Linked DNA regions of Homo sapiens: region 1 is linked to region 2. The links come from fine-mapping of genetic effects on gene expression. Tissue or cell type: whole blood. Region 2 holds a variant in brackets; the other region holds the start of a gene. All regions are shown on one strand. Distances are between the middles of the regions.

Region 1 (8,097 bases), 630 kb before region 2:
CTAGGGTATTTTTATTAAAGTGGTACAAAGAGACTAAGACAAACCCCTTTTGCAGACACCTCATTGGGTGACCTGGTCCATGGCCTCTGCTCTTACATGTCTAGGGAAGGAGAGCTCACCCTCCAGGACACCCTCATATCAGGCTGAACAGCTCTAACTGTCAGAGGAATGGTTGCCTTGTCTTCTCCTTCACATACAGAGATGAATCAGACACAGTCCTTGCCCCACAGATAGAGAGTGGAGAGAGACAAGGACTCAACTACAGCTAAAATGTTTTATTCATTGAACAACCTTTCTCTGAGCTTCTGCTCTTTGTTAGGCCAGTGGTAGGCACTGCATATACTGACATTTAATTTCATAAAATGTGTGTCGAGTGTGTACTCAGGCACTGTGCTCAGTACTGGCTGCTGAGGGAGAGATAGACATGATACCTTCCCTCCATGGAGACAGTTATTAAATGAGTAAACATACAAATCAGTGTGTAATTGCAACTTGTGATCATGGCTGTGAGGAGATGAGCAAAGGAGACTCATAGAAGGGAGTGACTTCAGATGGGAGAGAAGGGAAGTAAAGAAGTATTCTTGAAGAAAGGGATGTAAAGGAAGATCAGTTTGCTGGGCAAATAGGAGTGGAAGAGTGTTCCAGGCAGAGAAAAGAGCAAGTGGAGAGAAGTCTCTGATGTGGGAAAGAGCTTGGCTTTTGTTAGGAAGTGACAGGAGGCTCCGGGGCCAGACCAAGCTGGAGTGGTGGGTAAGGAAGATTGCCTGTGCCCTCAAACCCATGCAAAGAAGTTTGCATATTATTTTAAGGGCTGATGAATGCCATAAAAGGGTTTAAGCAAGATACGTTTGAAAGAATAAAACAAGGTCTCCAGGAGCTCTCTGGCTTACAGCAATGATATTAACAAGATGAAGTATTATAAGAATTAGTAAAGAGCTGGGCGCGGTGGCTCACGCCTGTTATCCCAGCACTTTGGGAGGCCGAGGCGGGCTGATCACTTCAGGTCAGGAGTTTGAGGCCACCCTGGCCAACATAGTGAAACCTCGTCTCTACTGAAAATACAAAAATTAGCTTGGTGTGGTGGTGGGCGCCTGTGATCCCAGCTACTCAGGAGGCTGAGGCAAGAGAATCGCTTGAACCCAGGAGGCGGAGGTTGCAGTGAGCCAAGATTGAACCACTGCACTCCAGCCTGGGTGACAGAGAGAGACACTGAGAGGGAAAAAAAGAAAGCTTTTATATTTGTGTTCTAAACACCCTTCTTGAATGTTCTCTGTACTTTTTCTCAGGCTAAGCTCTTTGCCTGGATTCCTCTCCCCAGACTGTCTGCCGAGTACAACACTCTGGCTAACTTTGCCTGCATTACCTCCTCCAGGATGCCTTCCTTAGCAATGTAGTCCACCACGCTGCCCTATGTCAGAGCCCTGAGCACTCCCTGTATGCTGTTCCCAGACTATTTACATGTCAATGTCCACCGTCCCTTTCTTCAGACCACCCCTGGAGGAGGGCAAAAGTGGGGGCTGGAGGGAGGGGAAGTTGCAGAATCTTCAGCAGCAAACTGGCTCCCTGCACGCCCAGTCTGGTATTGGAGCTAGACACTGCCACCTGCTGGCAGTGAGTGGAATGGCTGACAAGATGGGGTTGGGAGGAAGGAGACTGCTGGAAACAGTCCAGGCCCACTTTGGCTTTTCTGAAGGGCAATCGCATAAGGTCTGGCTGGATGGAGGGCTTGTCTAAGGGGCCTGATGGTTTTGCGTGACAGCTGGGCTGGAACAGGAAGGAGGAACTGAACGTCGATGGAACAGCTGCTCAGGACACACGGTGCAGCCCTGTGGGGCTGCTGAGACCTTAGTCCAGACCCTGGGCCCCAGCCAGACCAGTAGGGGGGCCCACCTTGTTACCATGGGGATCAGGGCTGTGTCCATACAGCTGGGGAGATGACCCTCCACCCGTGTGAAGACCTCCAGGGAGGAGGGACCAGCCTCAAAGCCAAGTGTCCACCCATGCTCCCTCTTTTCTGGAACAACTTGTTTTGCTCTAAAGCTTGGGACTTTGACCCAGGAGGTATGTTTTCCTCCTGTTGATCACCTGGTGTCCTTCCTGTTCATCCCCTTCCCCCACCACTCCCAAAGCATAGCCCAGGGGATCCTTTCCTTTCCCTGGGTTTTTCAGGGAAGTGGAGGATACTGGGGTGGGGAAGGCAGAACCTGGGACTTGAGTGCTGAGGGCACTGGTTGGAGGGGGTGGCACAGCTGTGACCCCCCCACCCTCCTTAAGTCTGTCCTTGCTTGGCTCCTGGGATACCCCACTTTCCTGGGGTTGCTTCCTCCTGTTTCCTCCTGCCCCTTCTTCCTTTGAAAGACCTTTGTGTGTTGGGGGCGTGTCTCCTTCTTTCTGTGCTCTCCCCTCAACACCCCTACCCCCGCTACACACACTGGGGAGACCATGAGCTCCCAGGCCTCAGTTACCATCCCTGTGCTGCAGACGGCTCCCAGATGTTCCACTCCAGATGCAGGGATTTTGCAGCCTTCCAGATGTCTCCCTCTGGAAAGTCCACAGGCACTGCAAGCATAATACCTCAAAATCTATAGCTCATTAATCCTCCAACCCCCCAAACTTGCTCTGGCCCCTACTGAGGCACTAGCATCTACCCAGCTGCCTACGCCAGAAACCTGGGAGTCACCTGAAGCCCTGCCTCCTGCCTGTACCCATTCTCCCAGCTTGGCACTGTGTTCCAGCAGCCACACCCCGGCTTCTCTACCTCCTCAACAGGGCTCAGATCTGTTCCCATGGGCACTTCCTGCCCAGGTCCAGGCACTGGTGTTGTGGCCACTGTAGCAGATCCCTGGATTTCTCTTCTCCAGCCTTTGCATGCCCCTTTCACTCTCCACACTGCATGGAGAGGTGTTTTCCCAAACGCAAAACTAACCATGTGACTCTCCTCCCTAAAATTCTTGGAGAAGGCACCAGTAGATGTTTGTTAAATTCAGCCCCATTCCTTACATTCCAATCAGTGATTCTCTGGCTGTTCATTAACATGCACAGTGCTTACTCCAGTCTGTGTTAGAAGATTCTGAGGACACCAAGTTGGGTGTGGGAGGGAGGCCAGGATATACATGTTTGGGAGGCATCACTCAACTCCAAGCAAAGTTCTCCCAGATCACCTTGAGACACTCCATCTTTGGATGGCAATGGGCCCGACTGCACACGCATGTGAACACACACACACACACCCACACACACCACACACACACACACACACACACACACACACACACACACACACACACACAGGAAGCAGGCCTGAGGCATGATGTCTGAGTGCTCCCGCTGGAGCAGGAAGGCAGAATCAACCTGCCATAGGAAGGGTTGCCCAGGAGGCCTGATGAATAGGAGTTTGGTGGCTTCAGGGAAGAGAGGCTGTGGAGGTGCCTTCAGCTCAGGTGCTGGCTCCTGGGGACCTTCCATCTCTGATGAGACTTTGTTCCAGTTGGCCCGCTCCTTTCTAGGGAGTCAGCATCTCAGCTTCCCATACTTCTGGGGTGGGGGGTGGGGCAAGGAGACCAGCATGACCCTTGGTCAGGGGCTTGCACAGGAACTCTGGCCATTCTCATTCCCTGAGCTGGAGGGCCAGGTGGACACCACGTGATCCTGGGGAGGCTTTTGCCTCTTCCGAGGGCTCTGGCTCCAGGGCCTCCCTGTTCCAGGGGCTAGGTGTGCCTTCCTCAATGCTGCTTTTGGCTATGAGGGTGACGGGCCCAGGGCTTCAGGGCCCCAGATCGCACCTTGCCATCTGGGGTGTCCGTCCTTTGTCCCCCACAGCAGGCTGTGTTTGCCCATTTTCTCCTCTGCCATGGGTGGAGATGGATCTGAAGTTGGGTGTTGAAGCCTCTGACCAAGGCTGTATCTTGTTTTGAGGCCCTGCCCGGTTTCCAGGGACCACATCTGGGGCCAAGAGGAAGAACCGAACTGGGACTAGGTTAGCTGTGCTGGGTCAGGGCCTGGGCATGGGCTGTGAAAGCTGGGGACTGGGACCTTCAGGCCCTCTATTGAGATCTTTGCAGAAGGGGGTGGATTTAGGAAGCTACTGGGCTGGGCCAGGGCGTGGAAGGCACTGAAGCCGTAGTGTGTCCCAGCATTAGAGTCCCAGAGTTTAGCTTGGCGGGGCAGGGGCAGGTGGTGGGGAGAACAGGAAATAGGCCAGGCTCTCGGCGGAGTCTGGCAGCTTTGAGCCTTCTCTGGGCTTCTGGGGTTTTCCCCAGGCTCCTGAGCCAGCCAGGACATTTCTTAATCCCACTGTCAGCCTTCCAAGAAGCCCCGCCCACTGGGCTCAGTCAAGGCAGGAGCGACTGTGTGTCACCCCTTTCCCTAGAATCCAGCCCCACTGCCAGGAAAAGGGAGCTCAGGGCATGGAGGTGAGGCTGGGACTCTCCCACATCTGCTTGTTCCTCATACCCACCTCCTTAGCTGGCCCCTGGAAGATGACCTCGAATGCCAGCCCAAGTGAGCTGGGCACCAGCCAGGGGAGGCCAGGTCTGGCAGCTCATTACCATGGGAGGGAGGGCACGTTCTCTCCGACGCCCGTCTTCGTGTCTCCTCCCTCCCTCGCCTTCCTCCTTCCTAGCTCCTCTCCTCCAGGGCCAGACTGAGCCCAGGTTGATTTCAGGCGGACACCAATAGACTCCACAGCAGCTCCAGGAGCCCAGACACCGGCGGCCAGAAGCAAGGCTAGGAGCTGCTGCAGCCATGTCGGCCCTCAGCCTCCTCATTCTGGGCCTGCTCACGGCAGTGCCACCTGCCAGCTGTCAGCAAGGTAGCTCAGGAGGAGAGGGCTGGGCACGGGAGACCCAGGGGTGGACAGGTGGTGTTCTGGCTCCCCTCCCCAGGGCCTTGATACTTACAGTTTGGAGGGGGAGCAGGGACTGCGCTAGCTGAAAGAATGTCCCAAGGCAGAGACCTCTGAACCAAGTCTCTGCCTGTCACTTGTTTTCAACGAGTGAAAACTGGCAGCAGTTGGTTCTAGGATCTCAGGGAGGAACAGGATTTGAGGCCCAAGCCCCAAGAGCAGGCATTGCCCAAGGGATGGCTGGGTCCTGAGTACAGGGGACCCGGGGGTACAAGTAGGGTGAGAGTGGGGCCCAAGCCACCCCTCAAAGACTTGGGCTTTGTCTCGGCCTCTTGGGCTTGGATAGAGAACAGTGCCCAGTGTGACTCCCCCAAATATCTGACCTCTTCGTCCTGCTCTGCCTGAATGGATGTGTGACCTTGAGCAAATCACTGCCCCTTCCTGAGACTCAGTTTTCTCACCTATAAAATGAGAACAATAAACCCCACCCTGCCCACCTCCCAGGGCTGCTGCCAGGTCAGAGGTGAAGAAGGGCTTTGCACCTGGTGAAGTAACTAACCCAAGGTCTGGCTTTCATTCTACACTGTCAGGCTGCATCTGCAGCCAAAGTCTGGGGACTCTGCAGGTGGGACTTGGTCCAGAGGGGACTGGCAAAGATGCTTTCAGAGCTCCCCTCCCACCCCCACCCCGAGCTCTTATGTGTGTCTGCTTCAACTCTGTCTCCCAGGTCTTGGAAGCCCTCTGGGGAACTGCAGACCAGAGAGGTTGAGTCACAGAGCACGGCAAGAAAGGACAGGGTTCAGACCACCTTTCTCCTGCCCCAGACACTGCCCCTTGCTGTATGTGCATGGGAGGAGGAGCAGGGACTGTGGTCCCTGGGGTGACTGGAGAGAATTGGCTGCAGGGTCTAGGAGGAAACAGGGAGGGGCCTCCAAGGGTTGAGCCCTAACTCCCCATGCTTGAGCAACCACTGACCTGAGGGAGCAGTCTGAACCCCTAGGGAAACAATGACTCCCAAATACTGCTTTTTGGCAGGTGTGGAACTGAGGGTAATCACACTGTGTGTCTTCTGCTTCCCCTGGAGATAAGTGAGGTCTGACCTCACTACAGGCCAGAGAGTTCCTAGCCTCCTTCCTCCTTCCCAATATTTGCCAGGCTCGGAGAAGAGGTCAGGCCTCCACTGCAGCAGGAGAGCTTTTGGTAGACTCAAAGGAGGACATTTGAGCAGGAGTGAGCCAGAGGAAGGTTTTCTCATGTCCAGCTTGGGTCCCTCAAAATATAGGGATGCAGGTATATTCTGGCCTGGAGGCAGGACCCCTCTGAAGCCCCCTGCTGACCTGTGTTTTGTCCTGGGACTTCTCCCCGCTGAGGGTCTTTTCTCTACAAGGCTGAGCTCCTGCAGGCTCATGGAGTGCAGTGATGCTGGGGAAGAGGAAAGTCCTTTGGGGAAGCAGAGGCCTGAAGGCAGGGACTTCAGGAAAATCTTGAGGGACTGTGTTGGTGTCAAGGGTCAAAAAGCAGAGAAGGGACCTGGTGCAGTAGCTCATGCCTGTAATCCCAGCACTTTGGGAGGCCAAGGCCAGAGGCTCGCCTGAGCCCAGGAGTTTGAGACCAGCCTGGGCAACGTAGTAAGACCCTGTCTCTATTAAAAAATAAAAAAAGTAGAGAAGGGTGCAGGTTGGGGCCTCAACCTAATCTCTGGCCCTAGTCCCTGGGCACCCAGCTGGGGGAATCAAAAGGAGCTCAGGTTTTGAGGCTTCTTTCCTGGTCCCCAAGACCCAGAGTAGAGTTCACCCCTCCATTCTGCCCTTCTAAAGATGTCCTGGTCCACTCCTCTCTCTGGGTACCCCAGGCACCCCAGATCTCCCCAGCTGAGCAGCCCTGAGAGTCTCCCACTCTCATACCCTTCCTACCATCAGAGAAACGTCTTGCTACAGAACAGGATCTTCTAGATCCCAGACCAGTCTTGTCAGCTGTGGGTCCTCCTCAGCCTTCTGGGAGCCACTCCCAGCTGCAAGGCCTAGGCCGGCTGTCCAGGGGGCTGCCCTTTGGTCCCTGGGGCTGCATGTGACCCACCTGCGGGAGGGAAAGAGGCTCTGGGCTGCCTAGATACAGCACTGAGGCTCTTCCCTCCTTGGCTTCTCACTCCTTCCAACTCCCTTCTCTCTGAGCCTCTGTTGTTCCTCCAGCTCCCTCCTTTTCCTAAGCTCGGTGGAGCTTAAGATGCATAAGTGGGTCAGATGGGCTGTATCCCACCCCTGCCTCCCCACAATGTCTCCTTGCTCCTGGCAGCTGGCTGAGGGCCTTCAGCATAGGTGGGGTCCTTGAAGAGTGAGGCCCCTCGCTCTCCTGCACATGCAGCCCCACTGTGGCCCCGTCTGCTACAGCCCCTCTCCCTTTGTTAGGCCTGGGGAACCTTCAGCCCTGGATGCAGGGCCTTATCGCGGTGGCCGTGTTCCTGGTCCTCGTTGCAATCGCCTTTGCAGTCAACCACTTCTGGTGCCAGGAGGAGCCGTGAGTGCTGCCCAAGGGTCCCTGAGCAGGCAGGGTGGGCCCAGGACCACTGCTCTTGCTCTAGTAGCAGTGAGAAGGGCCTCAGAAACCCTGTGTCCAATCCTCCCCCTGAGGCTCAAGGGAAGGGAAACTGAGGCTCAAGGTCATGGGGTGGGTTGGTGACAGTCGGGATGAGGGAATGAGAGCCTAGGCTTGCTGGCTCCCAGACCTGGGCACTGTGGGCCCCACAGCTCTGGTGCCCACTCCCTGTGAGTTTTGGGGAAACGGCTTCGCTTCTTGGAGTCTTGGTGTTTCCGCAGAGCCAGGATAGCGGCCCAGCCTGTGATGGGGGCTGTAAGGACCTCTAGAAGGTGCGGTCCCTCCTTTGGGTGGGTCAGCTGTGGTACAGAGAGGGCATGGGACAGACACACCTCCTGCCCTCACAGGCTCAGACTGGAGTGAGCTGTCAGAAGTTCAAGAGTTGCTGCTGAGGGAGAGCGCAGAGGACACTGCAGGGCCTGACCTGGTCCGGGGTGGCCAGAGAAGGCTTCCCCATTGCACATTTATCCCGAAACCTGACTAACGAGGAGGAGTCACTACCAGGATAGAGTGGCGTGGGAAGAGCGCTGCAGTTGAGGGAAGGGTACACCCAGGTCCTGAGTTAGGGGCACGGCACCAGGGCTGCTGGGGACAGACACACACAGGTGAAGGGCAGGTGGGCTGAAATCCAGCTCACTCTGCACTCACCAGGTCAGGACCCT
Region 2 (8,103 bases):
AGAGCTCTCTGCTCTGCTCTGCATTAGGCCTTCTTCTTGGTGGTCACTGTGGTACTGAGGGGTAGGCTGGCTGGGATTCATTTAGCCCTTCTTATCCCTGCCAGACTTCTAAAGCCTCCTCTTCAAAAGAACCCGCAGAATCAACTGTGCTTTTGGTTTGTGTCGCTGGTTACTTCTGCCTCCTGCAGCTCGTTGATTTTTTAATGTACCATAATTGGGAATTAATCTGCGAACTACAGCATTTGGAAAAAATTAATTGTGTGTGGAATGTTTGATAATTATCTGCATATGTTAACCATTTTTTTGCTCTTTGTCATGTCAGGCATTGCTCATCGTGATCTGAAACCAGAAAATATATTGTGTGAATCTCCAGAAAAGGTACTTTGGGCCTGATTTGGAATGTTATAGTTTATACTTACCGAGGAAGCCACCCTTGCTTTCAGGATGGATTGTTAGCAGTTCCGTTGGCCTCAGACACCAACTTGAACTGATCGTCTTGGACATGTGAGAATGTTACACTTACTGTGTGATGTTTCTGCCCATCCTCGTCCTTTCTTCGCTCTTGATCATCAGTGTGATTGATGTAAGCCTGAGAGTTTGGAAAATATATGAGACCTGCACAAAATTAATATTTTCTAGTCCAATGCATCTATCTTTATATCAGTTGATGGAAGTCGTAAATACTTTTTTTTTTTTTTTGAGACGGGGTCTCACTTTGCCACCCAAGCTGGAATGCAGTGGCATGATCACAGCTCACTGCAGCCTCGACTTCCCAGGCTCAAGTGGTTCTCCCACCTCAGCCCCCCAAGTAGCTGAGACAACAGGCATGTGCCACCACACCTGGCTAATTTTTGTATTTTTAGTAGAGACAGGGGTTTCACCATGTTAGCCAGGCTGGTCTCGAACTCCTGAGCTCAAGCAGTCCACCTGCCTTGGCTTTCCAAAGTACTGGGATTGCAAACGTGAGCCACCATGCCCAGCCAAACAACTTAATCTTATGTGAAGCAGATCTCTTTAAGTAAACGGAAGTGTATGAATTTGACAAATTCTGTGTTTATTAGGAGAGATTTAGGCACTGGTGGTGTTGGGGCCCACGTTCACAGCTCTGCGTGTATATACATGTGTGTATTCAAGAGCATATATATTGTGGTCTGGATGAAGCCGCGGCTCATAAATAAGGGGTGGCCTTGAATGAATGAGTCAGTCTGCTACTCACAACTCTTTTATGGGGAATAATAATGGATTCGCTCAAATAAGATCTTGTGACTTCTGTCACTGATTCTGTCGTAGACCTTTATAATTTATCATTATTATGATGATTACTACTAATAATTACAGTGAACACTTCTTGAGTGCTTACATTGTGCCAGGCACTTATATTTATTTAGTGTTTATGAAATATCATGAGGTAGATACTATTATTACCTTCATTTTATGGACGAGGAAACTGAAACTCAAGTTAGGAAACATGTATAGCCAGTGAGCCATGATTGCACCACTGCACTCCAGCCTGGGCAGCAGAGATTCTGTCTCATAACAAGAACGTGAGGAAAGGCAAGGCGAAAGAGAGGAATAATTGGGACCAGGCAGTGGCTCACGCCTATAATCCCAACACTTCGGGAGGCTGAGGCAGGAGGATCCCTTGAGGCCAGGAGCTTAAGAACAGCCTGGGCAACAAAGCGAGACCCCATCTCCACAAAAAATTTAAAAATTAGCTGGTCACAGCGGTTGCATGCCTGTAGTCCCAGCTACTCAGGAGGCTGAGGTAGGAGAATTGCTTGAGCCTGGAGTTTGAGGCCAGCCTGGGTGATATAGTGAGACCCCTGTCTCTTAAGAAAAAGAGAGGTTAAGTTTCAAAGGACATTATCTATCAAGAAAGTGAAAAGACAATCTACAGAATGTGAGAAAATATTTGCAGATCATATATCTGGTCAAGGTTTAATATCCAAAATATATAAAGGATTCCTAAAACTCTACAACAAAAAGACAAACCAATTTAAAAATGGACACGGGACTTGAACAGACATTTCTCCAAATAAGGTACACAAATGTCCAACAAGTACATGAAAAGATGCTCAACATCCTTAGTCATTAGGGAAATGCAAGTCAAAACCACAATGAGATACCACCACATACTACTAGGTAGGCTGTAATTTAAAAAATGGAAAATAGTAAGTGTTGTTACGGTTATGGAGAAATCGTAACCCTCATACATTGCTGGTGAGATTATATAATGGTGCAGCTTCTGTGGAAAAGTTTGGCGGTTCCTCAAAGGCTAAACACAGAATTACCATATGACCCAGCAATTCCACTCCTAGGTATTACCCAAAACAATTGAAAACAGATACTTGTATAGCAGTATTCATTACAGCATTGTTCACAACAGCCAAAAAGGTAGAGACAACTCAAGTGGTCATCAGCAGCTGAACAGATAAACAAAATGTGGTACATACATTCAATGGAATACTAGTCAGCCATAAAATGGAATGAGGTTTTGATACATGCTGCAACATGAATGAACCTTGAAAACATTATGCTAAGTGAAATAAGCCAAACATAACAGGACAAATATTGTGTAAATCTACTTATATGAAATATCTGGAATGGGCAAATTAATAAAGACAGAAAGTCTTAATTAATAAAGTCAGATTGGAAGTTACCCAGGGCTAGGGGAAGAAAGAATGGGAGTTATTGCTTAATGCGTATAGAGTTTCTGTTTGGAGTGATGGAAAAGTTTTAGAAACAGATCGTGGTGATGGTTGCACAACCCTGTGAATGTACTTAATTAATACCACTAAACTGTCTACTTAAAAATGGCTAAAATCTCATATTTTATGCTTTATATTTTACCACTAATAAGAGGCTAAAGGAAAAAGAAAAGAAGAAAAAATAGAGAAAAGGGGAGGGAGGAAGGAAGGGGAGAAAGAAGTCGAGGGACTTGCCCAGGCTTCCCGGCAAGGACATGGGTCTCAGAGAACCAGCATTTAGTTCACTCGCTGTGCTGCTTACATGCCATGTAGGCCATTCTCATCCATTCTCATGTGTGCACCCAAACTGCCTTCCTGGTTGGCTCCAGAGATGAGGCACCTGTCTGTGGTCTCAGGCACAGCATCCAGTTCTGGTGGACTTGGTTACTGTGTTGATGCCACCTACGGTGACCAACCATCCCAGTTTTCCCAGGCTTGAGGGGTTTCCTGGAACGCAGGAGTTTCCGTGTTTAAACTGATCAAGTCCCAAGCAAGCCACCCAAGACAAGTTGGTCACCCTAAGCCACCTGAGGCGGTCAGAGGTTTTACTGCAAGCTCCTTTACACTCCACTGAATGGGCTGCAAGAAGTCTGTCTCTCAGGAGTACACAGTAACTTCCCTAGCTGCTGTGCTGCAACCTGTACCATCATTTGCCAGCAAGAGTTCCATACTTCCTTTAGTCTGAGTTCACAATAATCTGACACCAAATAGTCCACCCATTTTTCCCTTAGATGGGAAATAAGAGAGCTCAGGGAATAAGACACTTGGGAAGAAATCCTCAGGGGACTTCTTGTTAACCTCCGGAGAGCAAACATGACCTGACAAAACCAGCTGCGGTGTGACAGCCACGGAGCCATGCACCCGTACAGCCATGCCTGGCTCCTCTTGCCCCGTAGTTTCTTATATCTGTGACCCTGTCTTCTGTTTTCCTTTTCAGGTGTCTCCAGTGAAAATCTGTGACTTTGACTTGGGCAGTGGGATGAAACTGAACAACTCCTGTACCCCCATAACCACACCAGAGCTGACCACCCCAGTACGTATGCTTCCTCTGGGCTCCTAAGTATTTGGAGTGTTTCCCTGATCCAGAGCTGGGAGGTCCAGAACAGAGGGTTAAGGATGGAAAACCAAGTGGACCTATCTTCCTGCTGCCTGAGTGATCATTTTGCTTGCTGCTCTGTGTTCGTGGCTCTCAAGCCTCCCCTGACCCCTTAGTTGCTAACGAAACTGACACTTGGACTGTTAGTTGGGTTGGGTCCTCTCTGCTGATGAAGAGACAAATTATATCTATAAGCACAGGCTGGCCGTTTGCAATGGCTCATGCCTGTAATCCTAGCACTTTAGGAGGTTGAGGCAGGCAGATCACCTGAGGTCAGGAGTTTGAGACCAGCCTGACCAACATGGAGAAACCCCATTGTACTGAAAATACAAAATTAGCCAGGCATGGTGGCGC[G/A]CACCTGTAATCCCAGCTACTTGGGAGGCTGAGGCAGGAGAATCGCTTGAACCCGAGGGGTGGAGGTTGCGGTGAGCCGAGATAGCACCATTGCACTCCAGCCTGGGCAACAAGAGCAAAACTCCGTCTCAAAAAAAAAAAAAAAAAAAAAAAAAAACAATAAAAAAAACACAGGCTGAGCCCTGACTCCTGACCCAGGTGAAAATGGACCCTACTCCCAGGCCAGCCCTTTTGCATATGAGCATTTGGGTAGTTCTGTAAGTCCTATTCCCACTGCTGAAGGCACAGCGCAGCCCCCTTGTAATGGGGGATGGAGAGCTGTTCTCCCTGACTGGACAGGATAGTCTCTCTGTGGTGGGAACTGTGAGGTCTCAGGCTATATGCACATGGGATCGCTTGGCCAAGTTAGCCTGTTTGCTTCTCTGATTTCACATTTCATGACCAGATGGTGCTGCTTGGAGCTACTTCTTCCTAAAACATCTCTTGTATAACTAATAGAGTATAATTATGATTCTTTTGAGATTTGTATGCTTCACAAGTAAATTTTCCTAATAACCCTTTTTTTTTTTTTTTTTTTTTGAGACAGAGTCTTGCTCTGTTGCCCAGGCTGGAATGCAGTGGCGTGATCTCGGCTCACTGCAAGCTCTGCCTCCTGGGTTCATGCCATCCTCCTGCCTCAGCCTCCCGAGTAGCTGGGACTACAGGCGCCCGCCACCACGCCTGGCTAATTTTTTGTATTTTTAGTAGAGACGGGGTTTCACCATGTTAGCCAGGATGGTCTCGATCTCCTGACCTTGTGAACCACCCGCCTCGGCCTCCCAAAGTGCTGGGATTACAGGCGTGAGCCACCACGCCTGGCCCCTAATAACCCTTTTAAGACATGCCCTTTAAGGGCATATTTAATATGCCTGTGTTGTATCTTATTCTAAACAACATTATCAGGAATGTTTCTTTCTTAGCTTCTAACACACTGGACTACCTTGTTTTCAAAGTCATTAATTCTAATTGACAATAACAAAGAAAATATCCTCTCTTGAGAACACTTACCATCTTTCAGTCAAATTAGTTTTGCAGGGTGTGTGGAGGCGGGAGGTGGTTGTTTCTTGGTGAGCCTGAAATAATGAAGAGTGGAGCAAAAAGAACGTGTTTTATTCCTATCAGCCGCTTTCTACACAAGGGTGAGAGAAAGGAATATTGGATTCTGGTCCTAGGGCTGCCATTGATGTGCTCAAACAGATCCCTGTCCCGTTCTTGGCCTTGCCCTTGCCATCTATAAATGGGAGGGGTGGGAAGGTTGGATTTGTTCTAAGAGCTTTGTAGCTTTGACGGTCTCTTAATTGTTACACTTCCTGCTCTGAGCTAGCAGGGGAGCACGACAGGATTCACTTTAAGAAATCTTGCTGTGTGGAACTGGATCTCCTTCCAGAGCCACATTCTTGGTGCATTTAAGTACCTGTACATGAAATATCTGTTTATAGGAAGCTGAAGCAGGGGGAGATTCCTGGAACTTCTTGGCCAAGGGTCTTTGCCTACTGGAGGAGGAACTGGAAGGATAAGGTGACCTGAACTGCTCCTCTGGATGATGGAAAATGATGGAGCTCAGTCTGCAGATGCCTTGGTGGCATCAGGCGGCTCACTGGCTGGCCTTCCTGATCTGTATCTCATCCTTCCAGCCTCCTGCTCCAGTCCCATCACAGTCTGCTCTCTGCCATCCCCTCTGCTGTAACTAAGCCTCTCTGTTCTCTGCCATCTCCCCCTCCCCCAACCCTGGCCCCCACAGTGTGGCTCTGCAGAATACATGGCCCCTGAGGTAGTGGAGGTCTTCACGGACCAGGCCACATTCTACGACAAGCGCTGTGACCTGTGGAGCCTGGGCGTGGTCCTCTACATCATGCTGAGTGGCTACCCACCCTTCGTGGGTCACTGCGGGGCCGACTGTGGCTGGGACCGGGGCGAGGTCTGCAGGGTGTGCCAGGTGAGTGCGGCCCCAGGGAGCACTGCGTAGACCCTGCTAGGGGTCAGTGTGGTTGGGGGATGCCAAGCAGGACTGGGCTGGGAGAGCGTTCCTGATCGGGATGGGGGCTCATAGTGCCCTCTCCCGCTCCTGTCACGGTGGCCACAAGGTAAAATAGAGATAATCAGACACTCCGCCCAGCTGGGAGTTCAGGGCAGGATTGTTAGAAGATCATGCCTGAACTGACTCTTTTTTTTTTTTTTTTTTTTTTTTTGAGATGGAGTCTCTCTCTGTCGCCCAGGCTGGAGTGCAATGGCACGATCTCGACTCACTGCAACCTCTGCCTCCTGGGTTCAAGCGATTCTCCTGCCTTAGGCCTCCCAAGTAGCTGGGACTACAGGCGCCGGCCACCACGTCTGGCTAATTTTTTATATTTTCAGTAGAGACGGGGTTTCATCGTGTTAGCCAGGATGGTCTCAATCTCCTGACCTTGTGATCCTCCCGCCTCGGCCTCCCAAAGTGCTGGGATTACAGGCGTGAGCCACCGCGCCCAGCCCTGAACTGACTCTTAAAGGGTGCATCCTGCCCTGCGGAAGAGGGACAAGAATCACAAGTAGAAGGAACAGCACGGGCATAGATGTGGGCACATGAAATAGCTGGAGTGTCTAGGAAGGAAGAGTGGAGTAGTAGGTCGGTGGTAGTGGGAGATGAGGCCTGAGAGGTTCACAGAGAGTCCTCTAGGAAGAGCCAAGGAATTTGGGCTTTGTTCTATGGGTGATCTCCACTCATCACCCATCCAGCCCACCAAGGGCATAGCCATCCTGGCCTGCCAAGGGCATTCTATATAGTTTGATCATCTAGGGGACAGTGCGGGGTGAGTCTGGGAAGAGGCCCCAGTCTGTGGCATCCCCAAGCCATGAGCTGCAGCTACAGCTGAGATCAATTGAAGCCGGTTGATCAAAACAATGACAGGCACATCCTGCCCATCCCTGGCAGTGTGGCCTCAGGAGGAATCTTTTGTACCTAGAACAAGCTGTTTGAAAGCATCCAGGAAGGCAAGTATGAGTTTCCTGACAAGGACTGGGCACACATCTCCAGTGAAGCCAAAGACCTCATCTCCAAGCTCCTGGTGCGAGATGCAAAGCAGAGACTTAGCGCCGCCCAAGTTCTGCAGCACCCATGGGTGCAGGGGGTGAGTGACTCCAGGGAGGGGTGTTTTCCACCACTTCAGGCCTGTGGCATGGCCACAAGGAAGCTGTCATGCCAGCAAGTGCTGAGCACCAGCCTTGTGGCTGGTGCAGCTGAAGAGGACAGCGTCTATCCCTGAGTGTGTAGAGTGAATCGACTCCTCCTGTTACCCCAGACTGAGCCCCTTATAGGCCATAGAGTTGGCTGTAAACTTGGCCACAGACTAAGCCCCAACAGAGTCCTCTGGGGATTTGGTACATGCACCCAGCCCCGCAAGCATCCTATTGTCATTTGAAGTCTGTAGCATCCTCCTCTTATATAGAAGCATCATTAGCTGAGGACACCCAGAAGTGAGCAAGGCCGTGCTGCGCTGATTGTTGTGTGGCCGAGTTGGGGCACATAGGTTCTCCTCATGGTCTGGGAGTCTGGGTACAGCTGGCCTGAAAGGCAAATGATCGTATTTTTTCCCTAAGCTTAGAATTCATGTCTTCACTAGAAAACATTTTTAAAAATCCTCCTTGGCTACTCACAATACCTGACCTCTGCCCTCCAAGGGGTCTGCCAGATGCTCCCATGACTTTCTGGTCTCCTTGGTGTGCCAGGCTCTGGCCAGCCTCAGTGACCCTACCAGTGGAAGGAGGCAAGCATTGCCATCCTATGTTGCAGATGGGGACCCAGTTTGAGTGTCTAACTGGCTCATTCCCAGACCCATAAGTGAGCACCTGCCACATGCCAGAGGGACAAGTGAGACCCAGTCCCTGTCT

What was found. PIP is the estimated chance that this variant, and not a neighbour inherited with it, causes the effect.
Region 1: it holds the start of PDZK1IP1, and the variant in region 2 is fine-mapped to the expression of PDZK1IP1 in whole blood (TOPMed, PIP 0.96).

The regions. Positions count from the first base shown.
Region 1 is chr1:47,186,579-47,194,675 of GRCh38, reverse strand. It overlaps PDZK1IP1 (PDZK1 interacting protein 1), which reads left to right and starts at 4,640. Exons shown (of 4, transcript NM_005764.4): 1 at 4,640-4,810; 2 at 7,249-7,357. The coding sequence starts at 4,744. RefSeq lists an enhancer at 2,286-3,235 and a silencer at 4,065-4,359.
Region 2 is chr1:46,560,718-46,568,820 of GRCh38, reverse strand. MKNK1 (MAPK interacting serine/threonine kinase 1) reads left to right here. Exons shown (of 13, transcript NM_001135553.4): 8 at 323-378; 9 at 3,685-3,780; 10 at 5,978-6,172; 11 at 7,179-7,343. MKNK1-AS1 (MKNK1 antisense RNA 1) reads right to left here. Exons shown (of 8, transcript NR_038403.1): 6 at 5,245-5,309; 7 at 524-615; 8 at 1-339. Among named protein-coding and RNA genes, the nearest start is that of KNCN, 13 kb to the right of the region's middle. The variant G/A (reference allele first, on the strand shown) is at 4,198.